Linked DNA regions of Homo sapiens: region 2 is linked to region 1. The links come from fine-mapping of genetic effects on gene expression. Tissue or cell type: visceral fat. Region 1 holds a variant in brackets; the other region holds the start of a gene. All regions are shown on one strand. Distances are from middle to middle.

Evidence for each region. PIP is the estimated chance that this variant, and not a neighbour inherited with it, causes the effect.
Region 2: it holds the start of ALG6, and the variant in region 1 is fine-mapped to the expression of ALG6 in visceral fat (GTEx, PIP above 0.99).

What each region holds. Positions count from the first base shown.
Region 1 is chr1:63,507,428-63,512,427 of GRCh38, reverse strand. It overlaps ITGB3BP (integrin subunit beta 3 binding protein), which reads left to right. Exons shown (of 9, transcript NM_014288.5): 2 at 3,858-3,900. It overlaps LOC102724319 (a long non-coding RNA gene), which reads right to left. Exons shown (of 3, transcript XR_426701.4): 2 at 4,821-5,000. Among named protein-coding and RNA genes, the nearest start is that of ITGB3BP, 13 kb to the left of the region's middle. The variant G/A (reference allele first, on the strand shown) is at 2,804.
Region 2 is chr1:63,364,790-63,369,991 of GRCh38, reverse strand. It overlaps ALG6 (ALG6 alpha-1,3-glucosyltransferase), which reads right to left and starts at 2,365. Exons shown (of 15, transcript NM_013339.4): 1 at 2,305-2,365. RefSeq lists enhancers at 1,796-1,905, 2,766-2,905 and a silencer at 2,086-2,565.

The DNA.
Region 1 (5,000 bases):
TCAAATGATAGGGTTTTTTTTTCCTAGAATAATTTCTTTAATACTGTAACTGATGTTAGTCAATAACATTGTGTAATAAAACTCATCTGCTTTTTCTGTTCTGATGAACCAGAGAATCCTATTCAGGATACTACCATATGTTAAGCTAAATAGAAAAGAGGTCAGTCTTAGAGAATAATATAATTATACAAACATAGTTACTCTCTCTATAAAATTGCATGTCAAATGCTTTCTATCTTTTTAAAATTCTCAACAGCAGTATTTCTGGTAGCAACCAGAATTTTGATCCCAGTGAATCTAAACCTAGTATACCTAGAAATATAATATAACTTGTAAATTACGGGCATAGGTGGAAATTTGGGTAAGTTGGAAGTTAGAAGTTACCCACAGAGAGGTTACCTGTAAAAGGGAGGTAATTAGGACACAATAAGTAGATATCCTTTAAAAAAATTATCTATTTTTAAATTGTGCTAAATTATATATAACAAAATTTACTATTTTAATCATTTTTTAGGTGTCCAATTCAGTGACATTAAGAATGTTTACCTTGTTGTGCAACCATCACCACCATTCATTTCTAGAATTTTTTTTCATCTTGTAAAACTGAAAGTCTGTACCCATTAAACAGTAATTTCCCATTCCTCACTCCCTCTAGCCCCTGGCAACCACCATTCTATTTTTTGTCTCCATGAACTTGACTACTCTCCTATGAGTGGAATAATACAATATTTGTCCTTTTGTGACTGGCTTATTTTACTTAGCATAATGTCTTCAAGGTTCATCCATGTTGTAGCACATGTCAAATTTCATTTCTTTTTTTTAAAGCTGAATAAGATTTTGTTTTATATATATATCACATTTTGTTTATCGGTTCATCTGTCAGTGGATATTTGGGTTGCTTTTCTACCTTTTGGCTATTGTGAGCAATGCTGCTGTGAACATTGGTGTACAAATATCTGTTTGTGTCCCAGCTTTCAATTATTTTTGGAAGTGGAATCATGGAATCATATGGTAATTCTATTTTTAATTCTTTGAGGAACTGCCATACTGTTTTCCATAGCTGCTAAACCATTTTACATTCCCACCAGCAGTACACAGGGATTCTAGTTTCTCTACATCCTCACCAACACTTATTTTCTGTTTGTTTTTTTTGTTTTGTTTGGTTTTTTAATAGTAGCCATCCTAATAGGTTGTGAAGTAATATTTCATTGTGGTTCTGATTTGCATTTCCCTAATGATTAGAGATGTTGAGCATCTTTTCATGTGCTTATTGGTCATTAGTATATCACTTTGGAGAAGTGTATATTCAAGTCCTTTGTCCAATTTTGTGTGCCCACTTTTTTAAACCAAGATAGTAGCCACAGGAGCTGCTTATAACTTTACAGAACTACCAGATAGATATCACTTTTGTTAGCTAATACTGGTAACAAAAGAGTAAATATTTTAGGAAAATATCCCATATATCTAATCAAATTTTACCTATTCTTCCTTCATATGTTTCATCCGTCTCTTCTATTCCTACTAACAGTAAAGTAATCAATTTAGTATATTCTCGTCATTGTGTTGTAAAAGAGTGGTTGGGCCCAGTTCTAATATAATATTAAGAATAGATGGTCATAAACTCTGTAGTGGGTTTGCTCTTCTCTTCCCTTCTTTAATTCCCTTCCCCTCAATTCCATAAAGATTTATTATGCACAGGGCCTGAGATCTGAGTTTCTCTCCCTCAAGATGTGTGACAATAGGCAAGTTGCACAAACTGTTTTCCCTATTGGCTGAACTAAGTGATTTCTTAGATTTCTTCTAGTCTTGTCTATTATATCTTTTAAGGATTCTTTTAAGTATTATAACTTTTGGTTATTAGATGTCCGAATTATCTGAATAGTACACTACCCTCAGTAAATAATATTTTTAGATTGTCACCAAACATAAAGTGGGAGATGACAGCCTATTTTAACTCAGCTTACTTTCTTGTTTACTATTTTTTACGTATTTCCTTGGGTTTCTTAGATCAACCTGGGGCCTAATCTGTAAACTTTTTAAAAGCAAACATTTAGTTACTTTGTCTAAGAATTAACCATTGATAACAAAGCAATATTTTGAACAGTTAATATCAGGATGGAATATGTCTCCTTCTAAAAGATACTATTGCATCTTAATAGCATTTAGAAACAAAGGATAAGAAATGCTGTACTGTTTAACTTTAGTTTTTTAATTTCTATTTTCTTTTTCTTTTTTTTTTGAGACAGTTTTGCTCCCGTTGCCCAGGCTAGAGTGCAATGGCACGATTTCCGTTCACTGCAACATCTGCTTCCCGCGTTCAAGCGATTCTCCTGCCTCAGCCTTGGGAGTAGTTGGGATTACAGGCACGCACCACCACGCTAGGCTAATATTTTGTATTTTTAGTACAGACAGGGTTTCACCATGTTAGGCTGGTCTCGAACTCCTGACGTCAGGTGATCCACCCACCTCAGCCTTCCAAAGTACTGAGATTACAGGCACGAGCCACCACGCCTGGTGTAATTTCTATTTTTGAAGCGTTATAAATACCAGAACATCTTACATACCCAAATAGGGCAATATGTATTCCAAAGCTAAATATAAATTTTAAAAAATTATCTGCATTTTAGTTTGTTTGTACCTCTGTTTTCTTCTTGCCTCATTGGGAAATCAGATTAAATTGATATTAAGTAGATTTCTAAAAGCATAAATAATTCTTTAAACCAGTTTAATCTCAAGAAATAATGTTGTGATAGGGTAATGTGGATATAGTAGCAAAATAATCTTTTAGATAGATTAAATTTCT[G/A]TACTGTATATTTACTGTTCAATGATTTTCTTAGATTGACCATCTCTTCTATTTTTTCTTATTCCTGTCCTTTGTAAATCAATAGTTACTTACGAATAGTCATTTTCTAAGATCAATACAAACTTTTGGGGGATTTCTGTAATATAACATAGTACAATCTTTTTGCTTTATGCTCTAATTCTTTAATATTTTAATTCTATTTCTATTTCTCAAGAATCAGGAAGATACTTTTAACACTGCATTTGTCACTGAAAAAACTAGTTTTAATTTATATTGACCTTTTTCTCCTTTGAACATTTAGTCTGCATTGAATAAAATGTTGATGACTGCTCTTTAGAAGACAGCTGTATGAAATAAAGTATTATAAATATTCAGCTTCCCTTTCTAAGCATTGTCACCAACAGCTGGGCATCCAGTTTAGCAGAACAGATTTTGCACACAGAGAGCCTGGCATATTCCTGAATCAGTTTAGTGAAGGAAACAAAAAATAGTTTCTTATGGATTGGGGACTTATAAAGACATAGAGCATCTGTTCCTCAGTTAAGTCATAGTCTGGTTGCACTGAATCATGTTTAAAGCTAGAATAATGTGCAAAACTTTTTTTCACCATGCTCATACCTTTAACACCTAGTGCACTGTTTCTGTACTGTACTTTCAACATCTCCACTGAAAGTGTATAAATTATTTTGCTCTTATATATGATATTGTAATAGTGGTATTTTAAAGCAGACAAACATACTAACTTTTATAAGAGTTTTTATAATATAGGACTGATGTTTAAATTGTACGGTAGTCCTTGTATATATAACTGCATATATTTTTTAAAGAAACTCATTTAAATATTTAATTATGATCCCATTTAGAGATATGCAATTAGAATCAAACCTGTCATCATAAATAATTGCTTTCTTCATATGGTATTCTGCTTTAATACATAATATAAAAATTGGTTGGTAGAACTAAGAATCTTTGTTTATATATCTTCCCTTAATTATTGGGCTACTTTAAATAAAGCGTGTCAAATCTAAAATTTCTTTAAATTTTTTGTTTGTAGTGTTAAAAGATCACTGAAGTTGGATGGTCTGTTAGAAGAAAATGTAAGTATTTGCTTAAAAGTTTGTCATTGAATAAGATTGTGTTTTCAGTTTTTAACTACTGATTTATCTCGTTAAATATTAAAATTATCTTGATAATTTTAATTATATCACAGTGTGATATAATTGTGATTGGTACACCATTTTCTGCATATAAGATATTTTAGTTTTTGTGAATCTAATATGTGGAAGTTCCTGGCCAGCTTGAGGTGTTCAGTTAAGAAGCAAATTAATTATTTAAAAACCTTAATGAAATAATTTAGTAGAAATTAATTCACTATTTGTGGAAAAAAATAGTCTGCCACTTAAATGTACAAGAAACAATATGGGACAATGGCAGTACTTTTAATCTGCATACTATAATCTGCTAAAATGAAATGAAAACATTAGTAGCATTTTTATATCAAAAATGTAATTACCTTCCTCAGCTATGCTGGCATGGATTAAACAGCATAATACTAACACCGTAATAAATTGCACCACAGTTATCACAATGAAAATTAAATTGTACTGTTGCCATTACTTTTTGTAAATTGAGTTGTAGCACATTCCCAGTGCCAGCATATCATGACATATGTTAGTTTATTATCTTTTCATACCAACTATGGATCTAGATAGAAACACTAATACTGAGATACTTATGACCTCAGTAATCTTAAATGCAGGTAAATTGGTGAGAAAGTAAATTAAAACAAATAGCTAGTCAATAAGTAGGCTCCTCCAAATTCACATATGAATGCCATTTCAATAAATGGGTTTTATATGGAATTTTTCTTTGGAAGACACGCTGGTATTTAACAAAACAGAAATTTACCATTTAGAAAACTTGCTACATGCTTTTTAAAAATTTTTAAACAAAGGTGGCAAAGTACTGCAATGACACTTAAAAAATCATTAACAGTATAATTAGCAATTTAGAATACCATTATCCAACTTGTTCTGTGCAGAATGCAGCTGTGACTGTAATTCTGCATCTGTTTCTTTGGTCAGAATGGTTTTTTGGTAGATGAGTAGTCCAGCTTGAAATGAAATACTGTTCTTTCCTACCCCAAAGCTGTTCTTTGGGAGATGGTAACATTGTTTAAATGGAAAAGAATGACCGT
Region 2 (5,202 bases), 140 kb after region 1:
ACAAAATTAGCCAGGTATGGTGGCGCTCGCCTGTGATCCCAGCTATTTGGAAGGCTGAGGCAGGAGAATCGCTTCAACCCAGGAGGTGAAGGTTGCAGTGAGCCGAGATCGCACCATTGCACTCCAGCCTGGGCAACAAGAGCGAAACTCCATCTCAAACAAAAAAAAATAAAAAGCAAATCGACAAAATTGACATTTTCCTCTTCTCTTTGAAAAATGTTGGACCATTTTAACCACAGGATACACTTTAAATATATTCAGAAAATATAATAAATCAACTAAAAAATTTAGGGCAAAATTGGTACATTCCACCTAATGATCTAAAATTATTTTATTTTATTTGTTTTTTTTTCTTTTTTTTTGAGATGGAGCTTTGCTCTTGTTGCCCAGGCTGGAGTACAATGGCACAATATCGGCTCACCGCAACCTCTGCCTCCTGGGTTCAAGCGATTGTCTTCCCTCAGCCTCCCAGGTAGTTGGGATTACAGGCACCCACCACCACGCCTGGCTAATTTTTGTATTGTTAGTAGAGACGGGGTTTCACCAGATTGGCCAGGCTGATCTTGAACTCCTGACCTCAGGTGATCCACCCTCCTTGGTCTCCCAAAGTGCTGGGATTACAGGCGTGAGCCACTGCACCCGGCCCTAATTATTTTCTTATTTAAAATAAAAACATCACGGGATAACTCCAGAACTGATTGGAATGGCTAATCTTTTGTCATTGATGCCAAATCTCAAATCATCCCCTCAGAAAGATCATCCCTGACTATCCTACTAAAGCTTCCTCCCCTTACTGTTTGTATCATTACCTTCAATTTGCTTCCTAATTCTTTTCACTAACAGGATTTGTATTTTCACATGACATGGTGCAATCTCACACACATAATTTTCAGTATAAATGCTGGACACCAAAGAATACATATCATATGGTTCCATGAAAGGTTCATAAATAGGCAAAACTAATCTATGGTGTTAAAAATCAGGAAAGAGGTTACCTTTGGGGAGGAAAGAAGGGATGGTGGTTGGGAGGGGTGCCCAGAGAGGTGTTCTGAAATGCTGTGAATCTTCCTTCTTGATTTGAGTAGTGGTTAGGAAATGTGTTGACTTTAGGATAAATTAACAAGTTACAACTTATAATTTGCGTACAGTATTTTTCTATATGGTATATTCCAATTTAAAAAGCATAAAAGGGGCTGGGCGCAGTGGTTCACCCCTGTAATCCCAGCACTTTGGGAGGCCGAGGCAGGTGGATCACCTGAGGTCAGGAGTTCGAGACCAGCCTGGTCAACATGGTGAAACCCCATCTCTACTAAAAATACAAAAATTAGCTGGGCGTGGTGGTGCGTTCCTGTAATCCCAGCTACTCGTGAGGCTGAGGCAGGAAAATCGCTCGAACCCGGGAGGCAGAGGTTGCAGTGAGCCAAGATCGTGCCACTGCACTCCAGCCTGGGCGACAGAGCAAGACTCTGTCTCAATTAAAAAAAAAAAAAGTGTAAAAGGAAATTACTTGGATGTGTTGACTAAAGGCTCCCTGTGAGCAGGGATCCTCCTGTCTTAGTCGTTGCTCTCTGTTCCCCACTTGTAGAACAGTGTTAGCAGAAGGCAGGTACCCAAGAAGTATTTGCTGAATGGAGCTGTGTGCGTCTGTGTGTACGAAGCGGGGAGGTACCCTAATTTTACTGAGCCCTGTGTGGTTAAAGATATTATGCGAGGCTTTTAACGACTCTCTTCTGCTTAAACCAGAAAAAGGGTTATTTGCGACTTTTTCCACCTGTAAATCAGAAAACAGTAATTTTCTAACCCATCCACTGGCCACGAAGTTGCTAGGCAGGCAGTAGATGCGCTTTTCGTCCTCCTTTGCCCTGACGGTGCATCTCGACAAATGCCAAGCCCGCCGTCCCCATCCCAGAACCGACTTTGCTCCTTTTAGTCTGAAAGGTCCTTCCACCGCAGTGGACACAACACCGGGGAGTGCAGCTATCCCGGGCGTGTATATGGGGCGAAAGGGATCCCTTCTCGCGTTTCTCCGCCCCTCCTCTTGAGGGCCAGGCCCTCAGAACCGCAAGGACAAGGGTGCCAGGACCGCCCCAGCCTGCAAGTGCCACCACTATCACCGCGTCCCCTCACCCGACCCACAAGCGACCCTGCAGGAAGGGCTGGGGAGGCCTCGCGTCGCGTCCCTGGGAGTGGAGCGGAGCTGGGAGACGGGTCGCCAGCTCTGCGCCGGCTCGTGGCGCGTCCGAGCCCCCGGCACCTCCCCACACTGGCCTGGGGTCCGGAACCTCCGGGATCCCATGCTCTTACCCCGCCGCCCGCCGGCCGCTGGGATTCGCGCCTGCCGTGGGTCCCAGGAAGGCGCATGCGCGCTCGCCCCCGCGGCGGACTGCCCCTCCGGCCTTCCGCCTCCGTGTGCCCGCGCACCACCCGCGCGCCCGGTGCGGGAGCGAGCCCGTCGAGCGTGAGGGGAGGGGCGGGCAACCTGGCCTGGACAGGAGGCGGCCGGCTTAGGAGGCGGGGCAAGAGCCGATGGAACCCGAGAGGTCCCCAGCCCCGGGTTAGGCTAGGGGCAGGTGGAAAGCCCCTTGCTCTTCTTTCCTGGGATCGTGGCCAAGGCCGGAGCGGCTGCTTAGCCAACGGATTCCTGTCAGGGGCGGGCCCTGGCTTGCTGCACTGAGCAGAGAGCCTTGGCCGGTCCTCACCACCTCTGGGCCTGTGCCCTCGAGGAGCCAGAAAGCCAACCTGCTTCACTTTCTTCTAGCCACATGCCTGCGAAGAAGAAGACTGGGCAGCCCCCTAAAGTAAGAAACATTGAACATCCAACCATTTGCGAGAGCCTGTGCGTTGTGCAAAAGGACAGCCCTGCCCTCGAGTAGCCACTACACGTGCCCCAGCGGGCAGCTTGAATCACCTGGTCCCAAACTTGCCAAAAATACCTATCTAGTAAGTTAGTAAGACCTGCACACTTTTCCTTTTGCATTGATCCCTTCCTTTCCAGTTCCACTATTTCCATCTCAGTCTAGGCTTCTGTCCAATCACGCATGGACGGCTGTGATGATTTTTACTTGCCTTCCTTTGTTCAGAGAGTGCCCTCATTCCCCACTTCTGAATCTTGCCATTCTACGTAAGCCAACCCCTATAATTTGTAAGTGTTAGCAAATATTTGGCTAGGACTATGGCTTTCTACTGAGTCTGAATAACTTCTCTCTGGGCCTCAGTTTCTTCAACTGTGAAAGAAATCAGTAGGGCTAGGTGAACTTCCAGGTCTAAAATATGATTATATCTAAAAGACCATCAGCACTGGGAATATGGAGAAATATGGCAGGTCCCTGCCCTCAAGGCATTTAATTCTCATTGGAAAGACATTTTTATGCATAAAAGGATAAAAAGCTATAGAAGGAAACACATACTAAATGTTACATTACTTACATATGCACTAAGCACTGTAGGAGTTAGGAGAAGAGGGTTCACTGTAAACTGCAAACCATCAGGAAATGCTTTTCCTGGAGGAGTCAGCTGAGCTTTGAAGGAAAGCCTGGCTGGATAAGCCCAGAGAATGAGAGTAAGAATCTAGACAAAGGAAATGGTTCAAGCCAAATATTGTGGCAGCTGAAAAGTGTAGAACATTTCCTCTAGTTTAGGTGGTGGGTGATGAAGCTGGAAAGGACTGGTAATTGTAGAGAGCCTTGAATACCAGGCTATGGTGTCTGGAATGTATCCAGTGATCAGTAAGGGGCTATTAAATGACTTTTAGCAGGGAGTCAAGTATACAGTACAGTTACAGTGTTAGAGAAAACTTAAAGTGGTGAAAATGGATCAGATGAATCAGAGGGAGACTATAGCAGTCCACGCATGATTAGACAAGGGCTTGGACTGAGATGGCAATAGTGGAACTGCAAAGGGAGAGATCAATGCAAGAAGAAACATGTACAGGTCTTTTTTTTTTTTTTCTGAGACGCAGTTTCGCTCTTGTTCTCTTGTTGCCCAGGCTGGGGAGCAATGGCACGATCTCGGCTCACCACAACCTCCACCTCCCGGGTTCAAGCAATTCTCCTGCCTCAGCCTCCCGAGTAGCTGGGATTACAGGCATGCACCACCACACCTGGCTAATTTTGTATGTTTAGTAGACATAGGGTTTCTCTGTGTTGGTCAGGCTAGTCTCGAACTCCTGACCTCAGGTGATCTGCCTGCCTCGGCCTCCCAAAGTGCTGGGATTACAGGCGTGAGCTGCTGCACCTGGCCTCGTGTACAGGTCTTAATAGCATACTAGATATGTACAAGTGAAACAAAGGAGAGGGAAGAATCAAGGATGGCTCCCAAGGTTTCAAGTGTGCATTACAGTTCCCAAGAACTGATAGATCTTGGGAAGCCTGGAGAATAATCTGGCTTGGAGGGAAAGATGGTTCATTGTATTGAGTTCACGGTAACATAAAGACAAGAAAGTTGTAATACTCAGGTGTCAGTTATGAATCAGAGCCCAGGAAAGAAATTGGGGTGAAGATAGAGAGATGAAAGTGTTTCATTTGCTGAATAATGATGGAGACAGTATAGAGAGAAAATAAACAACCATACTTGAATAAATGCATTATCTCAGGCCAAAAGGAGAAAGGCACATTGGTGAAGGATGTTACATGGTTACAAATGTAGGGAGAAATCCATTACATTGCAGGATCATAAATATTAAGCATCTGGTGAACAAGAACCATGTTTGGCAGACCAAAAATCATACTTTATTGAATCTAAAGTTCCACCACTTGTAAAAAGCACCATTATTTTATGTACCACTGAGGAAGAAAACAATGCTACCATTTAAGCTAGTAATTACTGTAAAACATATAATTTCAGAAATATTAATATGTAAAAAGTATACATCTTAAAGTGATGGAAGTTGGTATCAATCTCTCCTTCCTGTTTCTCAACCCAACAGCTTCTGACCCAGTATTTAACAAAAAGTTAATGCTCAAAATGTTCATGAATAAATAGCGGAAGAGACATCACAGTCACTAACTCATAGCTGAATTGTCTCACCACTGCCATCTATATACCTTCTCCTGCTCTTTACCTTCAATAGGTATCATCTTTCACATGTGAATATCCAGTGCCTTTACATAACAGATGTTCAGAAAATGCATTTTGAATGATAGCATTTACTATAAGCAAAAAGGATAAGCCATAGCAAAATTGTAAAGCAGATCAAGTTTAGAG